Linked DNA regions of Homo sapiens: all the other regions are linked to region 1. Evidence: fine-mapped expression QTL. A gene starts in region 1. Each other region holds a variant in brackets. All regions are shown on one strand. Distances are from middle to middle.

What was found. PIP is the estimated chance that this variant, and not a neighbour inherited with it, causes the effect. A credible set is the group of variants that fine-mapping cannot tell apart.
Region 2: its variant is the best candidate, but not a certain one, in a credible set for the expression of PHETA2 in subcutaneous fat (GTEx, PIP 0.51).
Region 3: its variant is the best candidate, but not a certain one, in a credible set for the expression of PHETA2 in whole blood (INTERVAL, PIP 0.81).
Region 4: its variant is the best candidate, but not a certain one, in a credible set for the expression of PHETA2 in whole blood (TOPMed, PIP 0.68).

What each region holds. Positions count from the first base shown.
Region 1 is chr22:42,071,328-42,078,677 of GRCh38, forward strand. PHETA2 (PH domain containing endocytic trafficking adaptor 2) reads left to right here and starts at 2,921. Exons shown (of 3, transcript NM_001002034.3): 1 at 2,921-3,014; 2 at 4,244-4,325; 3 at 5,953-7,350. The coding sequence starts at 5,967. The coding sequence ends at 6,746. It also overlaps the pseudogene SNORD13P1. RefSeq lists enhancers at 2,241-2,973, 2,974-3,704, 6,315-6,877 and silencers at 3,059-3,438, 3,678-3,972.
Region 2 is chr22:41,349,044-41,356,393 of GRCh38, forward strand. ZC3H7B (zinc finger CCCH-type containing 7B) reads left to right here. Exons shown (of 23, transcript NM_017590.6): 16 at 77-258; 17 at 2,518-2,603; 18 at 6,426-6,559; 19 at 6,714-6,819; 20 at 6,911-7,019; 21 at 7,300-7,350. Among named protein-coding and RNA genes, the nearest start is that of TEF, 29 kb to the right of the region's middle. The variant G/A (reference allele first, on the strand shown) is at 3,856.
Region 3 is chr22:42,152,320-42,159,669 of GRCh38, forward strand. It overlaps the pseudogene CYP2D8P. Among named protein-coding and RNA genes, the nearest start is that of CYP2D6, 25 kb to the left of the region's middle. The variant C/T (reference allele first, on the strand shown) is at 4,022.
Region 4 is chr22:41,987,625-41,994,974 of GRCh38, forward strand. SEPTIN3 (septin 3) reads left to right here. Exons shown (of 12, transcript NM_001363845.2): 6 at 1-135; 7 at 1,943-2,060; 8 at 3,949-4,044; 9 at 5,040-5,139; 10 at 6,666-6,717; 11 at 6,997-7,090. Among named protein-coding and RNA genes, the nearest start is that of WBP2NL, 7.5 kb to the right of the region's middle. The variant G/A (reference allele first, on the strand shown) is at 4,026.

The sequences.
Region 1 (7,350 bases):
CCTTCTTCATTCATTCATCAAGTATTTATTGAGAAACTGCTAAGTGCCAAATGCTTTGTTCTGGGCATTGTAGGGGCAGAAAGGTGTGATATTTTCCCTTACTCATCCCAAAGGTCACAGCGGACACTCCTACAAATAAAATATAGGTTAGCAAGAGAAAAGCATAATAGATTGATTTACTCAATGTTTTATGTGACTTGAGAGCCTTCAGGAATGAAGACACAAATACTCAGGGAAATCTTTATTTTTATGTCTCGGTTTGATGAAGAATGGACAGCCCTGGCCGGGTCTGGTGGCTCATGCCTGTAATCCCAGCACTTTGGAAGGCTGAGGCAGGGGGATCGCTTGAGGCCAGACATTTAAGGACAGTCTGGGCAACATAGTGAGACCCTGTCTCTACAAAAAATTAAAAAGCCAGGCAGGTGCCTGTGGTCCCAGCTACTCGGGAGGCTGAGGTGGGAGGATTGCTTGAGTCCAGGAGGTCGAGGTTGCAGTGAGCTGTGATTGTGTCACTGTACTCCAGCCCGGGCAACAGAAAAAAAAAAAAAGGAATAAGGAATGGACAACTGTGTATAAACGCGATTAGACAAAAGGGAATGATTTAATGTTAATAGCTGAGTGTGGAAACCCAGCAATGTCTGTTCAGATTCGGATTCTTCTTGTTCTCTCTGTGTGGCATTCCCTCCTGCTGGGAGGAGGGCAGGACCCCTTCTGGAATGAGAGTCTTATGACCTAGTATCAGGCAAGGTAGATCAGAGAATTCCTTTATGGCCAGGCCCGACACAGAAAGGTGGGGGATGTTTCCAGTAATATTTGTAGTTACTTTTTTTTCTTTTTTTTTTTCTTTTGAGACAGAGTCTCCCTCTGTCACCAGGCTGGAGTGCAGTGGCGCGATCTCTGCTCACTGCAACCTCCGCCGCCCAGGTTCAAGCGATTCTCCTGCCTCAGCCTCCCAAGTAGTTGGGACTACAGGCGCACGCCACCATGCCCAGCTAATTTTTGTATTTTTAGTAGAGATGGGGTTTCACCATGTTGGCCAGGATGGTCTTGATCTCTTGACCTCGTGATCCGCCCACCTCAGCCTCCCAAAGTGCTGGGATTACAGGCATGAGCCACTGTGCCCAGCCAATATTTGTAGTTGCTATAACTCACCTTAGGGAGGAGGATTTTTAGTTTCTATGGCCTGCCTTGCAGGAGAAAAACAGGAGAAAGAAGGGGGGCAGGAGAAGGTCAGAGAGATACTTTGCTTCTGAGGCTCTTCCAGTGTCCTTTGGTTCAAAGTACTCAGCATGCCCAAGTGCCATATTTTTAGGCATCGCTTTCTGAGCCCCAACAGCACCTTCACTCAGATGGCCACTGGGTGTCTCAAACATAACCCAGACCAAGCACCGGCCACTTTCCACATCTCAGATAATGACAACTCTCCTAGGTGCTCAAGCCAAAACTGTGCAGTCCTGCCTGCTCTTTCCCTCACTCCCCACATCCAACTCCTCAGCAAATCCTGTGTTCTCTACCTTCAACAGCCATTCTAATTCTGGCTGCCTCTCCCTCCCCGCTCTTGCCGCGTTTGTGACATCTCGCCTGGATAGTGGCAGCAGGCTCCTCACTGGTCTCCAGCCTCCACTGACATTGATTCTCACCACAGAAGCCAGAGTATGCCTTGAAATCGCTCAGGTCCCTCCTCACAGCCCTGTCTAGAGTAACAGCCCTCCCAGATTTACAGAGCCCCATCCCACCCCTTCTACCCCCACCTCCTACTGTCTGCCCCTCCCCAGGCCTCCCAGCCTCACTGGCCTTCTTGCAGGTCCTCAAGCACAACAGGCCTGAGGGCCACTGCGCTGACTGTTCCCTCTGCCTGGAATTGGCATGGCTGGCTCCCTCATTTCCTTCAAGTATTTGTCCAATGTTACTTTCTCAGTGAGGCCTACCCTGACCACTCTATTTGCAATTGCAACCTCCCTACTCCCACAATTTCCCATCTCCCTTACCCTCCTCTGTTTTTCCATGCCACTTATTATCTTCTAACACATTTATTATGGTGTACAGTATTAACTGAATAAAATTTAGTAGGGGAGACAGGCAATAAACAAGAAAATAAAAGCATGAGCATAGGAAAGTTTACTCTAGCAGTGAGTGCTCTGATGGAAATAACACCCCAGGGATGGGACAGAGACTGCAGGGCAGGTTGCTTTACAATGGTCCCAGAGGAGACCACTGAGCAGAGACTCAAATCTGTGTCCAGAGGCGTCCTGAGGAGTGGAGCTGCGGTTGGGGGTGGGAAGGAAGGCCATTCTAGGCTGCAGGAACTGCAAGGGCAAAGGCTCTGAGGCGGGAGCCAGGTTCATGGGCAGATGTTTGAGGACACCTCCGGCTTCCAGGGCCTTCCAGAAGTTCCAGTCTCTTGGGTTTGGTTGTGCATTCCTGCGACCTTCACCGCAGGCCTCCTCCTCCACCCACTAGTGCAGAGCCTGGGGGCTGCCGGTGGGTTTCAGGCCAGGGAAGCAGAAATGGGTAATTTCCAGAGGCAGAAATCAGCCGACCCCGGTGGCCCGGTGGGTGGCCAACAAAGCTTGGCTGGCCCTCGCGGGCTGTGTAGGAGCCCACCCTAGGGAGGTACCCAGAGACATCCCTGGTTTGGCTCTGCCGGGAAAGTGGGCCGAGCAGGGAGAGGGGGACCAGAGAGGAAGAGATGGACAGAGTTTTCCGGACGGTGGGCTGGGTCCGAGGCCCGCGGACCGTCCGAGGGGGGCCTCTGGGTTCGAGGCCGCCCGCACCGACCAGTGCTGTGGCTCGGGCAGTTCACCGCCCTCTCGGGCCTCAGTTTCCCGCCCTGGCAGACCTCGAGGCGGCCTCGGAGATCCCGGGCCTGGCGAATACTGGGCGGGGAGGGGCGTTAACTCCAGCCTCCCGGGCGGGGTCTCCCGGCTCCCGCGGCCACGTTGCAGCCCAGGCGGAGGCGCGGGATCTCGAGCTGGGATCGCCCTCTTGGGCTTCGGTGCGATCGGCGGCGGGAGGTGAGAGTGGGCCCGGCGGGCTCCGGGAGGAGGTGGCCCCAGGGAAGGTGTGGCCGCGGGGAAGTGGCGGCGAACAGCCCCGACGCGAGGACGGGGAAACCAAGGCGGCAGCCAGGGAGACCCTGACCGAGGTGACCTCTGTTTAGGGCGACAACCGGGTTGGGGCTCCCCGCAGTGGCCACTGGCCCGGCGGTCCCGCACCCCCAGCCCGCCTCTCCTCCAACAAAAGAATCCAGGAAGACGGTGGGGCGGGCGGGAGGCCCGGTGTGCGGTGGCCTGGCCCCCCTACTGGTGGAGAGGAGGGAGCGCCCTTCCCCAGACGCGGGGGAGGGGAGGGGTCATGGCCCCACGGGCTGCCCACCCCCTCCCTGTGCCCCAGTGCTGGGCCCAGGACCCCCAGTGAGGCCACTCCTCTGGCAAACATCTGTGATCTCTTCCCCCTTCCTGGGCCCCCCCTACTGGAATGGCGTCTCTCCCCATCCAGGGGCCTGGCTTGTTTTTCTCCATAACCCTTAGCATTACCGGTCCTTATGTTATCTCTTATTTCACTAATTATTCTTTCATTAATTTATTAGTATTTATTTTGTTTGCCTACAGTGTGTTTCCCCCTGTGGGAATGTAGGCTCCAGGAGGGCGGGAGACTTCGATTTGTCCACTGATGTATCCCCATTAATTCAACAGATCCCTCCTGAGGGCCTCTCTGAGCCCTGCACGGTGCTGGGTATTGGGGTTCTCCTGGGAACTTAGCTGAGCCCCACCCTAGACATTCTGGGGCTGGGAACAGTGCTGTAAACACATATGACATCGTCGTGGGATGAAGGAAACAAACCAGAAATGGGGGGGTCTACTGGTCAGGTGACCTTAGGTCAGGCCACCTTGGTGGTCAGGGCCACCTTAGATGATATGGTGATCATGGAAGGCCTCCCAGATTAGGTGACTTCAGTTAAAGCCAGGAAGTGCTAGAAGGGAAAAGCTAGGAACCATGAGGGCATGTGTAGCTCTGACCTGGACTCAGGCAGGGAGCTGGGGTCTGAAGAGTAAAGGTCAAGACAAGGGGACCCATCCCCTTAAGCTGCTCAGGGGTTCCTGGCTGGGTGGATGGGTGGGGGGATTCTCAGGGGTCAGGGAAGGCTTCCCGGTGGAGGCTGTGGTTTCATTAGGCCTCGAAGGTGGAGTAGGAGTTCTCATTCTTTGGGATAAGCTGACTGGGCTTGAGAATTGTTTTGCAGGTTCCCTGGGAACCAGGTGGTCGAAGGGCTGAGCTGTGTGGCCAGACAAGAGGTCCCTGCCCTCCCCCAGTGAGCCCTGCTGGTAAGTGGGTACAGTGTGAGGGATTTGGGAGACGAAGCTCTGCGTCTCATTGGCCATGTAACCTTGGGCAAGTTCCCCTCACTGCGCTGGGCCTTGGTTTTCCATGAGTAAGGACAGCTGGACTAAGTGCCGTTCATGATGCTGGGGGCACCCACATTCAATGGCTGTGGTTAGCTCTTCTCAGCTGTACCCTGGGTTTGTGCCACACTCTTGTGTACAGAGTAGCTCCCCATCTGGCCCTGAAGGCTGCAGATTGAGACAGAAAAATAATGTTTTATCTGAGGAATTGGAGCCCCTTTAAATAATCAGGCCCAGACATACTGAAACGCAACAGCTGTCAAGTCTTACTCCTCCCTTGAGCTAAAGAATTATCTCTTTTTCTTTTTTTTTCTTTTCTTTTCTTCATGTCAGATCGGTAATGTGCCTACATGGTAACAAGGTTCGAGGGTGGCACAGCTCACACATGCATGTGAACACCCAATCATCACGCTCATGAACTACAAAAGGATCAAGAATTACCTCTTGAAGCCACTTGCTATGTGGCTCTAGAGTGACACCAAGTAGCCATAAAATGCTGTACACTGGACACCCTATAGTTCATACCCTATAGTTCAACAATGTATAGCCAATCACTAATCAATGTTATTTCTTTTTTTTTTTTTGAGATGGAGTTTCTCTCTTGTCACCCAGGTGGAGTGCAATGGCACAATCTTGGCTCACTGCAACCTCTGCCTCCTGGGATCAAGCAATTCTCCTGCCTCAGCCTCCCGAGTAGCTGGGATTACAGGCACCCACCACCGTGCCTGGCTAATTTTTGTATTTAGAGACGGGGTTTCACCATGTTGGCCAGGCTGGTCTCCAACTCCTGAGCTCAGGTGATCCACCCACCTCGGCCTCCCAAAGTGCTGGGATTACAGATGTGAGCCACCGCACCCCACCAATCAATGTTATTTCTATAAACCAAGGAGAATTCCTGCCAAACAACTTTGTCATCCTTGCCCCCTTCTGCCTATAAAAACCTGTAGGAAAGGCCCAACGCAGCACACCCCACGGCAACTTAGAAGTTTGTTCTGGGCAGTTATCCTTACTCTCGCTCAAGTAAACTCTTTAAAGTTATATTTGTGCCTCAGCTTCTGCCTGTAGGTCAATAAGATTCAACAGCTATATGCAAATAAGAGGCCAGTAGAGGCCCAGGAGGGTCATGGAAACCCTGGAAGCTTGGCCTCAGAGTTGGAGTTGAGAGGACCCCAGATGAGGGGATAGTTTAAGCACAGTGGTTTCGATGGGTCTGGGGTCCATTTCAGCTCAGCTGGGGCCTGTTTCTTTGGATTTTAGAAAGCCGTGCCCAGGTCCTGCCATGCCTCCTGTCTGATGCAATCTCGTTATTCTTTTCTCGAAGTCCGCCAGTGTCCAGTTTTTTTTGCATGATCCTCACGACATCCCTTTGAGAGAAAAGGAAGGAAAGACGAGCCCACTTCTCAGGAGACTTTAGGGACCTTAGGGACACAGCAAGCGAGTAGGAGTCCCAGGGCTGGGGTCCAGGTTGCCTCTGGAGCCGGTGCTGTTCCCCAGGAGGGCACGGAACCACCTCCCTCTCTGATCTGCTGCCATCTCTCTTGCCTCACAGTTCCCGTGGGAGCCATGAAGCTGAACGAGAGGAGTGTAGCCCACTATGCACTCAGCGACTCCCCAGCGGACCACATGGGCTTCCTGCGCACCTGGGGGGGCCCAGGGACCCCACCGACCCCCAGTGGCACTGGCCGAAGATGCTGGTTTGTCCTCAAGGGCAACCTGCTATTCTCCTTTGAGAGTCGCGAGGGCCGGGCCCCACTGAGCCTGGTGGTGCTGGAAGGCTGCACAGTGGAACTGGCCGAGGCTCCCGTGCCCGAGGAGTTTGCCTTTGCCATCTGCTTTGATGCCCCTGGAGTGCGCCCACACCTGCTGGCCGCAGAAGGGCCGGCGGCCCAGGAGGCCTGGGTGAAGGTGCTGTCCCGGGCAAGCTTTGGCTACATGCGCCTGGTGGTACGCGAGTTGGAGAGCCAGTTGCAGGACGCACGCCAGAGCCTGGCTTTGCAACGCCGCTCATCCTGGAAGTCTGTTGCCAGCCGCTGTAAGCCCCAGGCTCCTAACCACCGAGCTGCGGGCCTGGAGAATGGCCACTGCCTCTCCAAGGACAGCAGCCCTGTGGGCTTGGTTGAAGAAGCGGGCAGCAGGTCTGCAGGGTGGGGGTTGGCTGAGTGGGAGCTGCAGGGCCCTGCCAGCCTCCTCCTAGGCAAGGGGCAGAGCCCTGTGTCCCCTGAGACCTCCTGCTTCTCTACCCTGCATGACTGGTATGGCCAGGAGATCGTGGAGCTGCGGCAGTGTTGGCAGAAGAGGGCCCAGGGGAGCCACTCAAAATGTGAGGAACAGGATAGGCCCTAAGTCTGGGCCCTTTGAGTCAGGAAACCAGGGCCAGTTCTTTTTCAGGAGTTAAATGTTTACCCATTTCCAAGGTTGCGTTTTGGGAGGGGACATGGGTTCTCTCCTTCCTGCTATTTAGGCATTCTCCAGGTTCGAGATCCACCCGTGTGTCTGGAAGGGACTGCGGGACCATTCCTTCCATCCTCTTTATTTCCTGAGGTCCAGAGAAGGAAGGAGACTTAGCAGCCACAGAGCAAGACCCCAATCTCCTGACTGCACTGGCCTGACTGCCCCCTCCCAGGGGATGTTAATGAAATGAAGGAAGTGGGGAATGTCACCCGAGACTGTCACAGGCTTGCCATACCTTTGGCCTACACACCGGGCTCTAGAGCCATAATTTCCAACCTGGGGAGTCTCCTGTGCACTTAAATCCGAGGTAGGCTGCAGTATCGGCTTGAAGCTCTGACACTGTCAGAGAAAGTGGATTTATTGTGTCATAGGAGTTTCTGGGACCCAGCTCTTCCTGAGAGGGGTGGGAAGATTGGGGATGGGATCCTCACTCAGCAGTCTGGGTAGGGCCCTTTGAGGCAGAGGGTCTTCGGCCAGTGAAGAGAGATTTATTCTG
Region 2 (7,350 bases), 720 kb before region 1:
AAGGTGGCCCTACCAGGAGAGAAGGTCAGAGGGGCTGCGGACTGCATCGTGCCCCTCCTGCCTGCCCGCCCGCCAGGTGCCTGGTGCACATCGTCCGCTCCACCTCCCTCAAGTACTCCAAGATCCGCCAGTTCCAGGAGCACTTCCAGTTCGACGTGTGCCGCCATGAGGTGCGCTACGGCTGCCTGCGGGAGGACAGCTGCCACTTCGCCCACAGCTTCATCGAGCTCAAGGTCTGGCTGCTGCAGCAGTACTCAGGTGAGGGGCAGGCGGTGCAGGTGGAGGGCAGGTGACTCAGGTGAGGGGTAGGCGGCGCAGGTGAAGGGAGCGCAGGACTGACTGGGGTGACAGGCCAGGGCCCCATGGTCGCTGGAGGGGGCTTCGGGAGAGTTCAGGAGAGGTGGCTGCGGGGTGGGCTCTCTGTGTGTCCCAGGCACCACAGAGGAGAGAAGCTCTGCTCTCAGGGCGCTTCCAGGCTCGGAGATCTGGGTTTTTCCCTTCGTAGGCACCGTCCAGGGAGCACGGAGAGGGGAGAGGAGCACCTGGGCTCCTGCAGCAGGACCTCTGCTTGCTCCCTGGGTGGTCGGCAGCAAGTCCCCGCTCCTCACTGAGCCTCCAGTGCTCATCTGGGAAATGGGGAGCCCCATCTCTTCCTCACAGAGCTGCTGCGGGGATTGGAAGGTGTTCTCCACTCACCCACCAGGGATTTACTGAGCACCTTCTCTTGTCAGGGCATTCAGCCATGGTCTAGTCGAGGCCCTTACTTTCAGAGAACCTACATTTATAAGTGGGGGCCAGACAGATAATATATCAACAGGTGAATAAATCCTGTATTCCATCCATTCTAGGATGCACATTTACCCCTACTGCCTGTCATCATTTAATTAGCAGCATTTTGTGGGGCGGGGATTTAAAATATGGTACATATAACATTCAGTGTCTGCTTAGAGTTGGTGAAATGCAGTGGTAGCATTTCAGGCGTGCCTCAGTGTTATGAGGAAGATAAAGCCGAGCAATGGGACAGAGACAGACTCGGGGATGGGAGCATTTTAGGTAAGATGGCTGGGAAGGCCTCTCTGAGGAAGTGACTTTTGACCAGGGAAGGGCGGGGAGTGCATTCCAGAAGAGGGACCAGACTGAAGTCTCTGAGGCAGGAGCAAGCTCTGCACAGAAAGGATGGTCCCTGGGGGTAGAGCAGCTTAGTCAGTAGAAGGGGAATGAGGCCTGAGAGGTTGGAGGGGACTGAGCATGTAAGAGTCTCTAGGCCTTAAACAGGAACAACTGGGGTTGTTCTAAATATGATTTACAGTGTCTGGAGGAGGGTTTTAAGTGGGTGGAGTTATATGATCTGATCAGTACTTTGCAAAAGTCACTCTGGCTGCTGGGTGGAGATCGAGGAGCAAGGGCAGAAGCCGGGAGATCAGGGAGGGTGGCTCGGGCCAGGGTGGTGATGCTGGAGGTGGGAGAAGTGGTTAGATTCTAGGTGTATTTTGAGGGTGGAGCCAACAAGATGTGTTGATGGATCAGATATGAAGTATGAGACAAAGGAGAGCGTCAAGGTGGACTCTAAGATCAGAGCAACAGGAAGAATGGGGCTACCATGTTCTAAGAGGGGGCAGGCTGTAAGAGGAGCAGCTCAGGCTCAGTGTGGGACGTGGGAAGTCTGAGCTGCCTGGTGGACTTCACATGGAGATGTTGGAAGCAGCAGATGTGGGGATCTGGAGGTTCACAGGAAAGGTCTGGCCTGTAGATACATACTTGCAGATCATCAGCAAGAAACTGGATGTCAAGTGCAGTGTCTTGCCCCAAGTAAGCACCGATGATGATTAGCTGTCGTGGAGCAGGGGCCATAGGTCAAGGTGGAAGGCCACATCTGTTGTGGGAAAGACGTGAGAAAGATGGAGAGCGCTGAAAAGAGGGCAGGCTTCATGGAAGAGTTGTGAGCTGGATCTCCAAGGTCGGGCTCAGTGGCAACAGTCTGAGGCTGGCGGGGAGACAGACTGGAGAGTCCATGCCACCAGGCTGGGGTATTTGCCCTTTGGGGACTGGCAGTAAAGAGCCGTGGTACCACAGTGAACCGGTGAGCCAGGCTGGGCAGGCATGGAGCCCTAAGTGCCAGTGAGGCCAGGGGCTGCCAAGCAGGCACTAGGCTTGCAGCCCTGTTGAGGGAGATGGGGGTCAGGGAAGGGTGCTGAGTCACCGGCCCAAGAGACAGGGTCACTGGCATGGGAGCAGAGGACTCCCTACCACAGTACAGAGCCAATATCTTTCTACTGCATTTTCCCACTCTTGGCTGCATTTAATTCTTTCACTTCCAGTGAGGCTCGGAGCAGGTCTTTGTTCCCATTTTGCAGATGGACAAAGTGGTTCCCTTGTACCCCATGTCTTACTGTGGCTGGGCTGAGAATAGGGCTCCTCCAGCTGGGCCTCGGGGGTCCCTGGCACCTCGTGGACCCCCTGCCTCCCTCCTTGCTGAGCACCTTGAAAGATGCCTGTGTCTGCCCCCACCCTCCCCAGGCATGACCCACGAAGACATCGTTCAGGAGTCTAAGAAGTACTGGCAGCAGATGGAGGCGCATGCGGGGAAGGCCAGCAGCAGCATGGTAAGGCCTTCTGATACTATGCCATTATTCAGATTTTGTGAATTGTCCCCAAATTACAAACAGGAAGGCTCTAATTTTACAATAGAGAAATGTTTACAATGGAGGCACCTCGAATAAGTTATGAAAGTAACTTGGATAATGTACACATTCAGCTGTTGTGTCTCATTTTATTTTATTTTATTTTATTTTATTTTGAGACAGGGTCTTGCTCTGTCACCCAGCCTGGAGTGCAGTGGTATGATCATGGCCCACTGCAGCTTCCACCTCCTGGTCTCAGGTGATCCTCCTGCCTCAGCCTCCTGAGTAGCTGGGATTACAGGCATGCACCACCACACCTGGCTGATTTGTCTATTTTTTAAGACCGTGGGTCTGGGGATGTGGGGCTTGCCATCTTGCCCAGGCTTATCTGAAACTCCTGGGCTCAAGCAATCCTCCCACCTTGGCCTCCCAAAGTGCAGCGATTACAGGCATGAGCCTTGTCGTGTCTCTTTTTCATCTCCCTTGATGAAGAAACGGTTCTTTAGTCTTTGCCTTGTGTTGCATTGAGGTTTTTGAAGAGCCAGATGTTTTGTAAAAGGTCCATCCCTCTGGGCTCGTGTGAGTTTCCTCATTCCACAGAGGTGATGTCGTGTTCTCAGCTCACACATCAGGGGATGCGTCATCTCAGTGTGTCCCTTCACTGGTGACAATCTAATTAAACTTTCATAACTTGATTCAAGGTGCCTCCATTGTAAACATTTCTCTATTGTAAAATTAGAGCTTTCCTCTTTGTAATTAAGACTATACTTTCAGGGATCATTTCTATAGTTTGTAATTAATAAAGGTCTTCAGAGGCCCGGCGCAGTGGCTCACCCCTGTAATCCCACCAGCCTTTGGGAGACTGAGGCGGGCGGGTCACGAGGTCAGGAGTTCGAGACCAGCGTGTCCAACATAGTGAAACCCCATCTGTACTAAAAATACAAAAAATTAGCTGGGCGTGGTGGCGGGCGCCTGTAGTCCCAGCTACTCGGGAGGCTGAGGCAGGAGAATCGTGTGAACCCGGGAGGTGGAGGTTGCAGTGAGCTGAGATCACGCTGTTGCACTCCAGCTAGGGCGACAGTGTGAGACTCCGTCTCAAAAAATAAATAAATAAATAAAAAGTCTTCAGGAGGCCTGGCGTGGTGGCTGACGCCTGTAATCCCAGCACTTTGGGAGGCTGAGGTGAGCGGATCACCTGAGGTCAGGAGTTTGAGACCAGCCTGGCAAACATGAC[G/A]AAACCCCGTCTCTACTAAAAATACAAAAAAATTAGCCGGGCATGGTGGCGGGCACCTGCAATTCCAGCTACTTGAGAAGCTGAGGCAGGAGAATTACTTGAACCCAGGAGGCAGAGGTTGCAGTGAGTTGAGATTGTGCCATTGACCTCCAGCCTGGGTGACAGAGTGAGACTCCATCTCAAAAAAAAAAAAGAAGAAAAAAAGGTCTTCAGGAGAAATACGTTGAGACCTTGTAAATATCCCAGTACTGCTCGGACTGACACCACTGATTGTGGTATCCCCTCCCATCCCTCCTGATCTTCGCCATGGTCCTGAAGAGAGCATGGGATTGTGGCATTTGCAGATGGGGAAGCTGAGGCTGAGAGATTGTTAGTGACTTGCCCAGGGGCACACTGAGTGGGGCAATTCCCAGGTTCTCTGACGTCCTGTCCGGGGCTCGCTCTTCTCCCTCCCCACCTGCGGCATTCCTGTCCATCACCCCCAGGCGGGGATCAGAACCCTGGCCCTCGTATCTCCTGGGGTGGGTGTGAGGCTCACAGGAGCCAACCTAAGCTGCCCTGTGCTCACATCGTCCCCAGGTGGTGGGATCACTGTAACTGTAGATGACAGTGGAGGACCCTCGGGCTCAGAGGGGTGGGCACAGCGCCCAGGAGACAGTAAGTGTGAGATGAGGCCTCTGTGCCATCCAGGCATGAGCACTGACCCTTTCATCCACATGAGGCCACCTGCTGATTAACTTGGGGGAAGGCTGGGCCCCTGGACCCTTCAAGAGGCTGACCAGGGTGTGGCAGGGAGCAGGGCAGGCTGCCGGGGGGTCCCTGGGCCAGGCTGGCTGGCAGGGCTGCCCACCACCTCGAGCATTCCCTTGCTCCCTGACTTCTTTGTTCCTGGTCCTCTTCTCTTTTTCTCCCCTCTTCCTGGTCCCTGCTGCCCTCCATCAGTCTCCTGTGCAGTCCTCTTTTCCCCTCCCCATCTGTTTCTTTTTCCTTCTGGCCAGGAGCCTGGCAGGGAAGGAGTGAGGGGCTTATGGGACCTTTGAAAGAGAGAACACTAGCTGGGTGTGGTAGCTCACCTGTAGCCCAGCTACTCAGGAGGCTGTGGCAGAAGGATCCCTTGAGGCCAGGAGTTTGAGATCAGCCTGGGCAACATAGTGAGACCCCTCTTGCCACCTGCTATGGCAAGGAGCTGGTGAGACTATGCAGTCATCAACGTGGGCATGGGGTCTGGCTCTAAGGGAGGAGCTCAGGACTGCAGTGGCTGTCATTAGTGCAGTGGCTAAGCCACCATACCCTCGGTGCCCCCTTTATCTCGCCCAAGAAATGGTAATAATGCCTTCCTCTCACGCTTCTTGTGAGAATGGAGGGGAACACCCAGAAGTCAGTAGCCACATGGGTCCACTTGTTGCCTGCTCCAGTGCAGGCCGTCCCACGCGTAAAGGCATGACCTCACCTTATCATCAGGGTCACACGTGTGTTATTCTGGGGCTGAGCAGCCCACGAGTTGTCCAGCACCAGGCCAGGGGTCAGTCAGCAATGAGGACAGCTCCTTCCTGCTCCAGGGCAGGCCCTGGGCAGGGCAATGCTGGGGACACGGTGGGGAGTAGGCCACAGCTTCTGTGGGGGAGTTCCTATGGCAGGAGGATCATGCCCAGCAGCCTGGAAGAGCAAGGGGTGACCCTGCACTCGAGGCTCCTGGGAAGACGGGGAGGCTTGAGGTTATATGAGGGAGAGGGGACAGCTGGTGCATTCACAGAACAGCAGGCTGGCCAATGTAGCCAGCTGAGGGGGTTCAAGGTGGCAGGAGACAAGGCAGAGTGAGCATTTTTCCTACCTCTGGCCCCCAACCCTGTCCCGGGGTACAGAAGAGCAGGCCAAAGGCTGGGGCGTAGGACAGAGAAGGAACGTGGTGGGTGGGGCCTTAGAGACCAGCAAGGCCTTGCCCTGGAGGGAGGGCCAGAGACCAGGGCCACTCAGACGCCTGTCCCACCGCCCAAGGCTGACTCCTGCCACCACCACCCTACCCCTGCCGGGGTGGCTTCCCATCTCCTGGACCCCCCGCTCTACAGGTTCGGCACTCATAGACGGGTGAGTCGGTCAACAGGAGCAGTTTAGAGACTGTGGGAGCTCACTGAATGGACAGCTGCAGCTTAGGAGAGCTCCGGGGCAGGCTTCCCACAGGAGATGCGCTTGAGCTGAGTTTTGAAGGATAGTTTCTAGAACAGGCTGGATGAAGAGTGGAGGAAGGGCAGCGGGAACAGCCTGTACAAACGCAGGGAGGTGTGGCGGAACGGAGCTTTGCCATGGGAAATGCAGCATCCACAAAGCAGGCCTCCCAGGGAGTTGGGCGAGGCAGGGACCAGCCACAGAGGGTGGAAAGAGGAGCCCCGTTCCAGGCCTGGCTCTCCTGGGAAGCCCTTGGGCCTGCAGTTGGGAGGTCACTGCCTGCCAGGAAGACCTGGGAGCAGACCAGCTTATTCCAAGGCTCTCCCAGAGGACACCTGTGTGGAGACTCCAGGGCCTCAGGCCTGGTGCCTGCAGCTTCACCAACCCCCCTCCCCATCCCCCCACAGGGTGCTCCGAGGACACATGGGCCCAGCACCTTTGACCTGCAGATGAAGTTTGTATGTGGCCAGTGCTGGAGAAACGGGCAGGTGGTGGAGCCTGACAAGGACCTCAAGTACTGTAGTGCCAAGGCCCGGCACTGGTGAGTGGGATGCCAGGTGGGGGCTCAGGTGGGATGGGGCCACCCTACCACCACAGGTGTGGAGGCCAACTGAGAGAGGCCAGGGCTCTCCACAGAGGTCACACAGCACACAGGCTGTGCCCTGACCTCTCCCCAACCCTGCTCTGTCCTGCAGCTGGACCAAGGAGCGGCGGGTCCTTCTGGTGATGTCCAAGGCCAAGAGGAAATGGGTGTCAGTGAGGCCACTGCCATCCATTCGTAACTTCCCACAGCAATACGATGTGAGCGCTGGGATGGGGGGCTGGGGGTCCCCCAGGAGGCAGCGATGCTTTCCAGCGGGACTCAGAGGATCTCCCCACGCCCACCCCACAGCTCTGCATCCATGCACAGAACGGCCGCAAGTGCCAATATGTGGGGAACTGCTCCTTCGCACACAGCCCGGAGGAGAGGGACATGTGGACCTTCATGAAGGAGAACAAGAGTGAGTGGGCAGACGGGGCGGGCGGGCCCTCCCCCGGTGTCTCTTCAGTGCTGAATGTCTCAATTCACCAGCGGGCCCAAGAGCGTCCACTGCACCCCTTTGCTACCTGGGCCCTTCTCCACCTGCCCCATGCCGGGCCCTCTCTGAGGCCAGGCCCTGAGGCTGAGCGGCCTATCAGCAGGACTTGGGACGCCCACGGCTCCCAAATCAAGTGGGGACCATGGGGCAGAATGGATGGAGAAGCCCCTCAGCAGGTGCCCTGTCCCTGTCCCCTGCCCAGTCCTGGACATGCAGCAGACCTATGACATGTGGCTGAAAAAACACAACCCAG
Region 3 (7,350 bases), 81 kb after region 1:
CTTTGTGCCCCTCTGCCCATCACCCACTGGCTTGGTCGGCGAAGGCGGCACAGAGGCAGGCGGCCTCCTCGGTCACCCACCGCTCCAGGGACTTCTTGCCCAGGCCCAAGTTGCGCAAGGTGGACACGGAGAAGCGCCTCTGCTCGCGCCACGCGTGTCCGTAGTGTGCCAGAAACACCCCTGGGGGCGGGACGGACACATGGGCGTGGTCATGGAGGCCTTGGCCCCGCCCTCCGCCGCCCACTCCAACCCTGTGCTTTTCCTGGTCTCCCGCAGTCCCTGGCCCTGTCCAGCTGGGCACAGGGCCTGCTCTTTGCTCACTCACCTTGCTTGGGTCTTGGCCCCACCTTGGCTCTTCCGACCCTGACTGCCTTTCCACTCAGGGAAGATCCCGCCCGTCCCGCCCCGCCCATACTGAGCCCACAGCAGAGTCCATCCCGGCTTCTAGACACCCGCTTCCAGCTGGGAAAGGCGCCAGCTCCGCCCACCCGGTTCCTGGTGGGTCTCGGCAGTTGCCCCGCCCACTCACAAGCCCCTCTTCCTCCCGCCCACAGACTCGCACCTCCCCAATGGAAGTGGTTTCCTGGCTCGCTGTCCCCAACCCACTCACTGGCCCACAACCCCGCGCCCTCTCAGCCCAGCTTGGGCTACGGTCACCGCCCACCCAGGACCCACGGAAACGCAGTCTCTGTCCCCCACCGCCGCTTGCCTTGGGAGCGCGGCCCGATGCCCAGGACCTGGTAGATGGGCGCAGGCGGGCGGTCGGCGGTGTCCTCGCCGCAGGTCACCAGAGCCTCACGCACGGCCGCCAGCCCATTGAGCACGACCACCGGCATCCAGGCCAGCTGCAGGCTGAACACGTCCCCAAAGCGGTGCCGCAGCTGTAGAGGGAGGGTCAGGGCCTCCGTTGGGTCAGGGCCTCCATCAGGCCAGGGTCCCCCCAGACTGCAGGTCCTAGTCCTATTTGAACCTTAGACGACCCTCGGGGCTACCAGGAGTGAGCAGGTGGAAGGAGGAGACCCAGCCTCCCGATCCTGGGGCGGGGATGGGGTCACACCTTCTGTGATGGAGGAACTCAGTTTGGATGCGTCACCCAGGTATGACCTTGCAAGAGTCACCAAAATTGCCGAGAGGCCCCAGTTAGCATCCCATTCCCAGATGATGGTCCATGCCGGTGAGCAGTGAGGCCCGAGGACCCACAGTGCAAAAGGTTTGAACCGGGTCCACTATATCCCTTCATCCTTGATTTCTAACTTACTCATTTATTTAGACCATGTCTGGCTCTGTCACCCAGGCTGGAGCGCAATGGCGCGATCTTGGCTCACTGCAACCTCCACCTCCCGGGTTCAAGCAATTCACCTGCCTCAGCCTCCCATGTAGCTGGGATTACAGGTGCCCACCACCGTGCCCCGCTAATTTTTGTATTTTTAGTAGAGGCAGGGTTTCACCATGTTGGCCAGGCTGGTCTCGAACTCCTGACCTTGTGATCCCCCCACCTTGGTCTCCCAAGATGCTGGGATTACAGGTGTGAGCCACCGCGCCCAGCCGTTGATTTTTTTTTTTTTTTTTTTTTTTTTTTTTTTTGAGACAGAGTCTCGCTCTGTCGCCCAGACTGGAGTGTAATGGTGTGTTCTCAGCTCACTTCAAGCTCTGCCTCATGGGTTCATGCCATTCTCCTGCCTCAGCCTCCCAAGTAGCTGGGACTACAGGTGCCCACCACCTCGCCTGGCTAATTGGTTTGTATCTTTAGTAGAGACGGGTTTCATTGTGTTAGCCAGGATGGTCTCGATCTCCTAACCTCATGATCCGCCCGCCTTAGCCTCCCAAAGGGCCGGGATTACAGGCGTGAGCCACCGCGCCCGGCCTGATTTCTTATTCGTTTATTTAGACATTGTCTGGCTGTGTCACCGAGGTTGCAAGGCAATGGCACAATCTCCACTCACTACAACCTCTGCCTCCTAAGTTCAAGCAATTCTCCTGCCTCAGCCTCCCAAGTAGCTGGGATTGCAGGCGTGCACCACTGTGCCCAGCTCATTTTTTGTATGTTTAGTAGAGACCGGTTTTTGCCATGTTGGCCAGACTCATCTGGAACCCCTGACCTCAGGTGATCCGCCCACCTTGGCTTCCTTAAGTGCTGGGATTATAGGCGTGAGCCACCACGCACAGCCTGATTTCCTGATTTAAACGGCACACAGGACCCTGACTCGTCTTCCATTCCCAAGGCCTTTCCTTCTGGTGTCAGCAGAGGGGACTTTGTGCTCCTAACATATGCTGCCCAATGGGCTTGCACGCCCACTGCCAAGTCCAGCTCCACCTCCAGGCCCTTGCCCTACTCTTCCTTGGCCTTTGGAAAATCCCATCTTTCATGCCATGCATAAATGCCCTCCCCCAGGAAGTCCCTCAAATCTGCTTCCCCTTCTCAGCCTGGCTTCTTGTCCAGACTGTGGCTCCACCCACCACCCATGTTTGCTGGTGGTGGGGGATCCTCAGGACCTCCTCCCTCACCTGGTTGAAGGTGTATATGTTCTGGAAGTCCACATGCAGCAAGTTGCCCAGCCCGGGCAGTGGCAGGGGGCCTGGCGGGTAGCGTGCAGTCCAGCGTTGGTGCTGCTGCATCAGGTCCACCAGGAGCAGGAAGATGGCCACTGTCACTGCCAGGGGCACCAGTGCATCCAGCCCCATGGCTGCCTCACTGCCCATTGGGCTCCTCTGGACACACCTGGCACCTCCACCCCACCAGGCACAGAGGACCAGGCAGGACACTCTCAGCACACCCAGTGCATGACCGTTCCCTTATAAAGGGAGCTGATGATGGCCTTTGCCTTCTGCTGTGAGCCAACCTGCTGTGTTGACTGTGCTGCCAGTGGGTGCAGGGTCAGGCCAGGGCGGGTATGGGCTGCTGCAGAGGTCCTTGCCCCTGCTCGCTCTAGTTGCCTACCCAGATTAGGGTGGTGGGCGAGAGGTGGCCTGGCATGGGAGCTCCACCCAAGTTGGAGGTATGGATTGTACTGGGTGCTGGGCTGTGTACTGGGAGCATGGTGGTAAGGCTGTGAGTCAATGCCCCAACGTAATGATGACCACGGGGAGTAGGAAGGTAACATAGCTGACATGACAAGCCAGCAGTGCCATGAGGGTCCATGGGGACGTTGTCCCAGGCTGGAACAGGACTTTCTGGGAAGGATTCATGGAGAACTTTGTCTAGCTGACTGAGGGGCTGCCTAGCACTGTAGGCCACGGCACTGGCAGTGGGACCAACCCACCCCTGGAATTTCCTGTGCAGGTGGCCTGAGGGGCAGCAGGAGGCCAGCAGCTGGAGCCTGGGTCTTTTCAGGTCTGGATGAAGACTGGATCTGGGGAACAAAAGGCAGGGAGAACAGTTTATTTAAAATTTAAAAATATATATATATTTTTTAGAGACAAGATCTTGCTCTGTTGCCCAGGCTGGAGTGCAGAGCTGTGATCATAGCTCACTCAAACTCCTGTGCTCAATCAAGAGATCCTATTTTAGCGTCCTGAGTAGCTGGAACTACAGGTGCACATCATTACGCTCGGCTAATTTTTTTGTTGAGATGGGTCCTCACTATGTTGCCCACGCTGGTCTGGAACTCCTGGCTTCAAGTGATCCTCCTGCCTTGGCCTCCCAAAGTGTTGGAAATAGAGGCATGAGCCACCTGGCCCAACAGAAGTTTTGAAGCTACTCAACTGACAGAGAGAGCAAGACCCATGCCTATCTGGGGACTTCTCAGATCTGGCTTGTGGTCTCCCAAACTGGCCTCAGCTGAATGAATGTTCCTGTCCTACATGGCAGCACTGTTCTATTTGGGACTGTGAGAGAATCAAGGTGCAGGGACAGCAGGATGGTCTGGGTGCTTGTTACATGGTGGCCCTTTATACATTACCTGTATGCACTCTTGGCCTTTTGAGGTGTCAGGCCCTCCCCAAGCAGTCATCATGAATCATGATGGGGGTGTGAAGGGCAGGGACAGGCATGCCTGCAATGTGGGCAGTGTCCTCCCGAGTG[C/T]CCTCCTTACCAGCCAGAGGCCTGTAATTCAAGATATGGCAGCATGAGGAAAACATTTAATAACAATGCCTGTGGCCTTTTCCAATCATTGTGCACCTGTGGCTTCCATTGATCGGGCACTTATGTGCCAGAAACTGCTGGTCAGACTGTGTGCTCTAGCTCATTAATCCTCCCACAGCCCCCTAAGGAGGTGGTTTTATGGTCCCCAAGGCACAGAGACTGAGGCTCAGAGATCACATAACAAGGTTCAAGTCACACAGCGGTGTTAGGAGTCCACATCCAATGTGTATGCTGAGCTACTATTCTATACTGTTTGGACATTACATTCTATTAATGGTCAGTATAGATGTTTCTGGGATTTATTATTTTTAGGAAACAGATCCAACCTGCCTTCCCTGAACAGTGGTACTGCTGTGTCATGGTAAAAAGTGCACTGTGCCCTGGCAGGCCCTATGGACGTTGCCAAGTGAGATGGTGTGAAAATATGTCAGCAAGTGGTAGACTAGGAAACTGCGGGCTCTCGTTCTCCTAGAGAGCTCAATGTTAAAGCTATAGGAGACCAAAACATCGTGAGAATTCTAGAAACTAGTTAGGATGCTGCAATGCCAGCTAGTGCAGAGCCAGGGAGGGACTGCACTGGGAAGGGTAGTCAAGTTGGAGCATTTTGCTTGTTCTTGCCCTTCCCCCTGCCAGGCATAGCAATGCTACTGGGAGAGACCCTCCAATTCCCAGCTCCTCCCATGGGATGGGTTTCTGCTGGGTCCGACTCAAGAGTGCTGAGTGGTGGGGTCTGTCTGCCCTCAGAGCAGCACCTCTGCGTTTCCACAGCTGCAAGGGGACGGGGTTATGGGCAGTGGAATAGTTGTGTCTGGGTATCCTGGAGGGGATTGGTGCCAGGACCCCCGGTAAATACCAAAACCCAAGGATGCTCAGGTTCCTTATGTAAAATGGCATAGTATACCTATGCAAATGCTCCTGTATACTTTAAATCATCTCTAGATTATTTGTAATGCCTAATACAGTGTAAATGCTACATAAATAGTTGCTATACTGTACTGCTCTTATTTGTATTTTTAGTTGTTATACTTTCTCAAGTTATCTTTGATGTGTGGTTGAATTTGTGGATGCGGAGCCTGTGGGTATCGAGGGCTGCTTGTACCCTAGAAACAGAAATGGAAAGCTCCAGGGGCAGGGCCAGCCTGCAGGGGGGCAGTTTAATGGGTAAAGCTTCCGTTGTATAAAATGAAAAATTCTGGAGATTGGTTGCACAACAATCTGAACACATTTCCCACTAAACTGTACTGTGACTGTTATGATGGTACATTTTTTTAACCACAATTTAAAAACTTTATGAGTATTAAAAAAATAAATGGCTATATACACACCTATTAGAATGGCTTAAATCCAGAACACTGACAACACCAAATGCTGGCAAGGATGTGGAGCATCAGGAACTCATTCATTGCTGGTGGGAGTACAAAATGGTACAGACACTTTGGAAGAAAGTTTGGCAATTTCTTTTCCTTTTCTCAGTTTTTTTTTTTTTTTTTTTTTTTTTGAGACAGAGTCTCACTCACTCTGTCACCCAGGCTAGGAGTGCAGTGGCACGATGATCTCAGCTCACTGGAACCTTTGCCTCCTGCGTTCAAGCAATCCTCCCACCTCAGCCTCCCGTTTAGCTGGGACTGCAGGCGTGAGCCACCATGCCTGGCTGATTTTTGTATTTTTAGTAGAGACAGGGTTTCACCATGTTGGCCAGGCTGGTCTCAAACTCCTGACCTCAGGTGATCCAGACAGTTTGGCAATTTCTTACAAAACTAGACATACTCTTACCATACAATCCACCAATCGTGCTTCCTGTACTTACCCAAAGGAGTTGAGGCCTTATGTCCACACAAAAACCTGCAAAGGGATGTTTACAGCAGCTTCATTTGTAATTGTCAAAACTTGAAAGCAACCAAGATGTTCTTCAGCAGTTGAATGGATAAACTGTGGTACAGCCAGACAATGGAATTATTTATCACTAAAAAGAAACAAGCTATCAAGTCATGAAAAGACACGGGTGAACCTTAAATGCACATTACTAAGTGAATGAAGCCAATCTAAAAAAGGCTACCTACTATCTAATCTCAACTATATGATACTTTGGAAAAGGCAAAACTTTGCAGACAGTAAAAGGCTCAGCGGTGAGGGACTGGGGCTAAGGAGGAATGAACAGTGGGACACGGAGGATCCCTGGAGCAGTGAAACTACTCTGGATCATGGTGCGTCCTCGTCTTTTTGAGACAGGATTTTGCTGTCACCCAGGCTGAAGTGTGGTGGCGCGATCACGACTCACTGTAGCCTCGACCTCCTGGGCTCAAGTGATCCTCCCATCTCAGCCTCCCAAGTAGCTGAGACTACAGGCATGCACCATCATGCCTGGCTAATTTTTGTATTTTTATGTAGAGATGGGGTTTCGCCATGTTGCCCAGGCTGTTCTCGAACTCAAGCGATACACCCACCTGAGCCTCCCAAAATGCTGGGATTATAGGCGAGAGCCACCACGCCCTGCCAGATCCAGGTCTTTATACATTTGTCAAAGGCCATAAAATGTACACCACCGGGAGTGGCCCCTAGTATAAACTATGGACTTTGGGTGAAAACAGTATGCCAACTCTGGTTGGGATGTTGATAGAGGGAAAGGTATGCATACGGGGGGAAGGGGTTATATGGGAACTGTCTGTACCGTCAGCTTAATCCTTCTGTGAACATAAAACTACTTTAAAAAAATCAATTAAGACAAACACTAAAGGAACTAAAAGGCACTTGAGCAGTTGAGGAGAACTGCAGAAGCCAGAAACTGGAGTCAGGAGGCATGCGTGTATCACTGCCACTCCCCAGTGAAGGTCATTACTGAAGCCAATTTAAGGAAAGACCTAGAACAATCACAAGTGCTCCACTCAGGCAAATCAAAAGGGGACAAAAGAATAAAAGACAAAATGACAAACATTTGCTGTCAGGAAAATATTTTCCTCAAGATACATATTTTTCAAGTTTTGTGGTTTAGCCCTTGACACCTGAAGTCTATCCATTTCATTTTAACTGTATTAATGCCAAGTCAAGACCAGAATGAGACAACAACTAGCTCAAAAAAGCCATCATTTCTGTGCAGGTCCTGTTCAGTTGCCTAAGCTTGGTCCTACGGCCGGCACGGCGCACCCACCCACACCTCCATCCTGGCGGAGTGAAATGAGAAATGGACTGCTTGATGTAGCCATTAAAATACAATTAATCTGCCATTTCTGCTGCCCCAAATTGATGAACACAGAACTCATTTATAATTGCTT
Region 4 (7,350 bases), 84 kb before region 1:
GGAGCCCATTGAGAAGTACATCAATGAGCAGTACGAGAAGTTCCTGAAGGAGGAGGTCAACATCGCCAGGAAGAAACGCATCCCTGACACTCGTGTCCACTGCTGCCTTTACTTCATCTCTCCCACAGGACACTCGTATGTACCAACCCTACCCCTATTGTCAGGCCTGGTCTGGTTTGTATCATCTGTGCCCATCTGGATTGGATGATCCATACGTTGACTCAGCTAGGCCTCCCTAGCTGAGTCCTAGCCCTTCCAGCCAGATGGGTTGGTACATAGTCATGGCCCATGACCTTGGGATTCCCTAGACTTTCCACGAGGAAGTTTGACTTTCTTGCTAGGAGGTTAAAGCTGTCCAACATCAGCCACCAATATCTGCCCACTGGTGTCCCAGCAGCATGGCACAACTGTATCAGCAAAGAGGACTTGGTGAATGTGAGCAGAGGGCACTTCATTTATTCACCAAATACCTGCTTTGGAAAATAATTGGAGTCGGAGGGAGCAGCAAGAAGGGTGAAATAGGGCAGTGCAGGGCTCCTGGATTGGGGCTGGTGTTTGGAGGGTAGGGACCCAGTTGTAGGCATTTAGAAGGTACCAGCCTGGAGTGAGGCATTGTGTGTTCAGAGATGAAGGCCAACCATTGTCATGAAGTACTATCTGATAGGCAGAATAAGACACACACAAGCATGTTGGGAACTCTGATTGTGAGTGACAGGTGGGCCCCATGAAGGAAGTGCTGGGAACAGGCAGAGGATGGAGATCCTAGGGGGCAGGCCAGAAACCTTCCTGCAGAGACCGGGGGAGGGGGGTCCCATAACATTACTAAGCCCAGCTGCTGGGCCAGAGTTAAGCTCTTCAGAGGATGGCACAAGCAAGGTAAGCCCCAAATTTTCTAGGAACCAGGCAGTGATGGTAGGGGGAGAAGAGAGATGAAACAAGACCCCTGGGCTAGACCCAGGAACTCAACAGAAGGCTGGTTTTATCCCTCCCTAGGCTTCGACCCCCTGGTCAGAATGAACCATCAGACAGACTGACTTAGTGAGTCCCTGAGATTGCAAAATAGAGCCAAGTTGGGGTCTCAGAGCCTGAGGTAGGATGGGGGCATAGACTGTCAGATTGTGGGAAGGGCAAGGCCTCCAGTTTGGCCCTGCAGGACTAACTCTGGGGGCTAGGAGGAGACCTGTCAAGAAGTAGTCTGATAGGCAGAACAAGATGTACACACTAGGCACGGTGGCTCTCGCCTATAATCCCAGCACTTTGGGAAGCCGAGGCAGGAAGATTGCTTGAGTCCAGGAGTTCAAGACCAGCGTGGGCAACATGGCAAGACATTGTCTCTACACAAAATTTAAAAATTAGCCAGACATGGTAGTGCGCAACTGTGGTCCCAGCTCCTCTGGAGGCTGAGGTGGGAGGATTGCTTGAGCCCTGGAGGTCAAGGCTGCAGTGAGCCAATGACCATATCACTGCACTCCAGCCTGGGTGACAAAGTGAGACCCTGTCTCAAAAAAAAAAAAAAAAAAAAAGACACACACAGTGTTGTTTTTTTTTGGTTGTTGTTGTTTGTTTTTTGTTTTTGAGACAGACAAAAAAGGAAAAAAGACACACACGCACAAGGACATATGAGTAGAGACAGTAGTCCACAGATGCTCCCAGGAGAAAGAAATCCCTGAGTCAGAAAAGATGTCCTGAAGTGGTGGTTTGAGGGGGGCTTAAAGAGAGGCAGAATCTGCAAGGGGACTGAAAAAGAAAAAGGCAGGTGTTGAGGCTGCTCTACAGACGGCAAGGCAGTGGGGCTGTGTCGGAGACGAGAGGTAGCAGCCTCTTGGCCTCAGCCAGATGCCCAGCCCAGTCCTCTTCTCCTGTGGGTGTCCTGGAGTGGTGGTGGTGGCTGAGTTGGGGAGGGCAAGGTGGCTCTGATGATTCTGCCTTTTCTGTGCCCCAGCTTGCGACCTCTGGATCTTGAGTTCATGAAACACCTCAGCAAGGTTGTGAACATCATCCCTGTCATTGCTAAGGCTGACACCATGACCCTGGAGGAGAAGTCTGAATTCAAGCAAAGGGTGAGAAGGCCCCCTGTCTTCTTTTCCTGTTCCCATCCCCTCCTTTCTCTCCGCTGGGTTCAGGCCATCTCCTAGCCCTCATCATTCTGCCTTCACCCCCACCCTCAACCCTCCCCCAATTCTCCACCCCAGCCCCCTTCTTAACCATTCAAGAGGCTGAGGTTGGTGGTATCTGGGGACTATGATGAAGAAAAGATGGCACAGCTCTGGGCTGCCTTCTTCCCACCCTCCAAACCTACCTGTGAAGACCACTGAATACATGTATCACTGTGTACATAAGAAATCACTCCTCCAACGTTAGCCTAATTGAAGGGCTAGACTAATTAGTGAGTCAACTGGCCACTAGTCCTCACTGGCATCTTCTCTTTGTTTTTTTTTTGGAGTCTCTCTCTGTCGCCCAGGCTGGAGTGCAGTGGCGTGATCTCGGCTCACTGCAAGCTCCGCCTTACGGGTTCACGCCATTCTCCTGCCTCAGCCTCCTGAGTAGCTAGGACTACAGGCACCCACCACCACGCCTGGCTAATTTTGTTTTTCTCTTTTTAGTAGAGATGGGGTTTCACTGTGTTAGCCAGGATGGTCTCGGCTAGTCTTGATCTCCTGACCTCGTGATCTGCCCGCCTCGGCCTCCCAAAGTGCTGGGATTACAGGCGTGAGCCACCGTGCCCAGCCCTCACTGGCATGTTCTATAAGCTCAGCCCTGTGCTGGATGTACAGGGTTGGGGAGGGGCGATTTGAGAGAAATGAAAAGACAATTGCTGCCTTTAAGAAATTTACAATCCAGTTGGGCGTGGTGGCTCATGCCTGTAATCCCAGCACTTTGGGAGGCAGAGGCGGGTGAATCACGAAGTCAGGAGATCAAGACCATCCTGGCTAACACGGTGAAACCCCGTCTCTACTAAAAATACAAAAAAATTAGCCGGGTGTGGTGGCGGGTGCCTGTAGTCCCAGCTACTCAGGAGGCTGAGGCAGGAGAATGGCATGAACCCGAGAGGCGGCGCTTGCAGTGAGCTGAGATCGTGCTACTGTACTCCAGCCTGGGCGACAAAGTGACACTCTATCTCAAAAAAAAAAAAAAAAAAAAAAAGAAACTTACAATTGGCTGGGGGCGGTGGCTCACGCCTGTAATCCCAGCACTTTGGGAGGCCAAGGCGGGTGGATCACCTAAGGTCAGGAGTTCGAGACCAGCCTGGCCAACATGGTGAAACCCCATTTCTACTAAAAATACAAAAATTAGCTGGGCGTGGTGGCATATGCCTGTAAGCCCAGCTACTAGGGAGGCTGAGGCAGGAGAATCACTGGAACCCGGGAGGTGGAGGTTGTAGTGAGCCAAGATCGCACCACGGTACTCCAGCCTGGGCAACAGAGCAAGACTCGGTCTCAAACAAACAAACAAACAACAAACAAACAAAACTTATAATCAAATAGAAAATGAAGAGGTCCTGGATGGTTTCCTGGAGAAGGCAAGACTTAAGTCGACCTTGAAAGAGGGCAAACAGTCTCGGAGTAGGGGGAGCCTCACCTTTCTTCCTTCCAATCAGGAATATAACATGCAGGGGTCTGAGCACTCCCCAGTGGGCTCACCTGTGCTGCTTGTGTAAATCCCAGTCTCGCGGACCCTGAGATGAGCAAGCTGGTTGCGAGGCGCCTGGGACCTGAAGTTGCACCTCCTGGCCTCTTCCTCCTCTCAGGCTAGGTTGTAATTGTATAGCTGGGGCTTGCATTTATTCACCATCTTCCTGCTGCTCAGGGTCTCAGAGTTCAGAGATGACTGTGGATTATCCAAGGCTGGATTTGGCTCTCTGACCTCAGCTCACGCACACAGGTGCACACACCCCTCTTTTCCATTACCCTGACACTTGACTACCTTGTTTCTTCTCCTCGCCTCTAGGTTCGCAAGGAGCTTGAAGTAAATGGCATTGAATTCTACCCCCAGAAGGAATTTGATGAGGATTTGGAGGATAAGAC[G/A]GAGAATGACAAAATCAGGGTGGGTGCCTGGGGCACTGCTCCTCCACTGATGCCCCCTTGCGACCTCTGGGATGTGTATTGTGCACGTCCTCTGTCTGTCTTTTCCCTTTCTGTACTCCCCCCAACCTTGCCTGACCCAGACCAGAAGTGACATAGGGGGATGGGGAGGACTATGGCCCTGGACTGTGAACCCACAGAAGGGCTCCCTGTACCCAGAAAGCCTTCTATCCCCAGACCACATAAAAGCCTCCTTTTCCCCAACAAGGTCTGGCAAAAACAGTATTTGGGGTGATGGGAGGGGCAGCAGGCAGGAAGAGCATCAGGCTGGGGTCCAGGAGGATCTATGCTGTGGTCAGACCCTGCCTTAGTTTCCCCTCTATGAAATGCAGGGGTTAGACTGAGTGGCTTATAGGCTTCCCCCGCTAGAATAACTTAAAAAAATTAAATTGGCTGGGCGTGGTGACTCATGCCTGTATCCCAGCACTTTGGGAGGCCTAGGTGGGAGAATCGCTTGAGCCCAGGAGTTCACGACCAGCCTGGGCAACATGGCAAAAACTTATCTCTACAAAACCTGCAAAAATTAGCCAGGCATGGTGGCGCATGCCTGTAATCCCAGCTACTCGGGAGGCTGAGGCAGGAGAATTGCTTGAAGCCAGGAGGTGGAGGTTGCAGTGAGTTGAAATTGTGCCATTGCACTCCAGCCTGGGCAACAAGAGCGAACTCTGTCTCAAAAAAGAAAGTACAAAGCGCTCTGCAGCTGAAGGAGAGCTGATTCCTGAGGTTAACCAGTGAGGCAGTGGTACAATTGGGACTAGACCCAGGACTCTTCAATCTCAGTCGGGTGCTCTTTTCAAGAGACTGAGCCTTGCCCTTGCCATCAGTAGTATCTCTGAATGAGCATCAGAAGTGTGTGGTTCAAGGCTAGAGGACCATATGCCATCCTGCTCCTGAAAGTCCAGGTTGTTGGAGGATGACGGTGCACATGTGTCTGGTTTGTGTTTCTGCCCCGTGCAGCAGGAGAGCATGCCTTTTGCTGTGGTGGGAAGTGACAAGGAGTACCAAGTGAATGGCAAGAGGGTCCTCGGCCGAAAAACTCCATGGGGGATCATCGAAGGTAATTCACTGCATCTTCTGGAAGAACTGGTTGCTGATCAGTTATCCAGTCACCATTTATTAAGCATCTATAGGTCAAGGCACTGTCTCAGGACATATGAAATGAATGCCAGCCAGATTCTGCCCATAAGGAGCTTACAGTCTCATTGAGAAGACGATGCTCACAGGCAGGAGTAACAAGAGACTGATTTAGCACCTGACTGGGTGGCACTGACTTAGCGCATCAAAGGAGTTCAGAACATGGAGAGATTAGTAAGGCCTGGAAAAACTGGAGAAAGGTTTTCATAGGAAGGGGGATGTGATCTGACAAACTGCCGGAGGGTTGTTCAGGTGTTGCCATTTCCATTTTATTATGAATGGATGTGACCCTGGGCGGGTCTTGATGATTCTGAAAGTGGTCAAAGAATCACTTTAATGATTTCATTCAATATGATAACCCTATGAAGGGAGGAGAGCGGGTGCTCCTGTTCTCAGAGTATAAGCTACCAAAGCACCGGAAGCTCAGGTTAAAAGCCTTGTCCAAAGCACATAACTTGTTAGTGGTGAAACTTGATTTCAGACTCAGATTTTTTTTTTTTTTGAGACGGAGTCTCACTCTGTCATCCAGGCTGGAGTGCAGTGGCGCAATCTCAGCTCACTGCAACCTCTGCCTCCCAGGTTCAAGTAATTCTTCTGCCTTAGTCTCCCAAGTATCTGGGACTACAGGTGCGGACCCCGATTTTTGTATTTTTTATTTATCCCCAAAAATTAGCCCAGCTAATTTTTGTATTTTTCGTAGAGATGGAGTTTTGTCATGTTGGTCAGGCTGGTCTTGAACTCCTGACCTCAGGTGATCCATTTGCCTTGGCCTCCCAAAGTGCTGGGATTACAGATGTGAACCACCATGCCTGGTGATTTTATTTTTATTTTTAATAGAGGTGGGGGTCTCACTGTGTTACCCAGGCTGATCTCAAACTCCTGGGCTCCAGTAATCCTCCTACCTTGGCCTCCCAAAGTGCTGGGATTACAGGCATGAGCCACAGCGCCTGGCCCCATGTCTTAATCCTCATTCTGTTCCAACAGTGCTTGGCCAATGATTTGCAAATACTAGGTATTCAATATATGTTGAATTGGATTTGTCATGTAGTGCATGACCTTTTTAAAATGGCTCAATTATTATTTTCTCTGTGTTACTTCCAACCGGATTATAAGCTTCTGAAGAATGGGAAGTGTATCTTAGGCCTTGGCCAGTTTCTCAGACTTGGTATTAGTTTTCTCTTCTATAAAATGGTAAAAATTATAGTCCCTCTTGGCTATTATGCCACAGCGTCTAGAAGGATGTCGTGCCCATTGTAGCTGCTTAATATTTGTTCAATGAATCAAATCCAGTACACCCAAGTGAGCAAATCTCTGGAAGGGTTACAAAAAATGACCTGTCCCATAGCTTTCTCCTAAATGCCTCCGTGACCCAAACAGAAGCTCACCTCCTGGGTGTTGCTGTATTAATGAACTGACTACCTGTTTTGCTTTGTTTTGTTTTGTTCATAGTGGAAAACCTCAACCACTGTGAGTTTGCCCTGCTTCGAGACTTTGTCATCAGGTAAGATGTCTCCCCTCCAGCTGTCCAGACAGCAGGTTGAATTATTTGGGGTCAGGGTCTATCTGTTCAGATTCACCTCCTGCATCTCCAGGTCTCTCTGACAGAGCTTTCTGCCCCAGTTCCAGCTCCTGTTGCAAAATGGAAGGTGCTGTAGAAGAATCCTTAGCTCCTGGGAGTGGTTCCCATTCACTGGGTCCAGTCCCTCGAAGTGATGTGTGTCACCGCCTCCTCTTCCTGCCCCTAATTGCAGCCCTCTTCTTCTCACCCTGTGTCCTCTAGGACCCACCTCCAGGACCTCAAGGAAGTGACACACAACATCCACTATGAGACTTACAGGGCCAAGCGGCTCAATGACAATGGAGGCCTCCCTCCGGTGAGCGTGGACACAGAGGAAAGCCACGACAGTAACCCATGACGACCACTTCTCTGTGTCATCACACATACCCACTTCACACACACACATCCCAAATACCACCACCAACCACCTTCTTCCTCTCAACTCTGTCCCACAGGCCTGTCTGGTATTTGTGGAGCATCTTGTCTGTGTGTGTGTGTGTGTGTGTGTGTGTGTGTGTGTGTGTGACAGAGAGAGAGCGAGAGAGCCTGTGTGTGTGCATGCAGGGGTGAGGTATT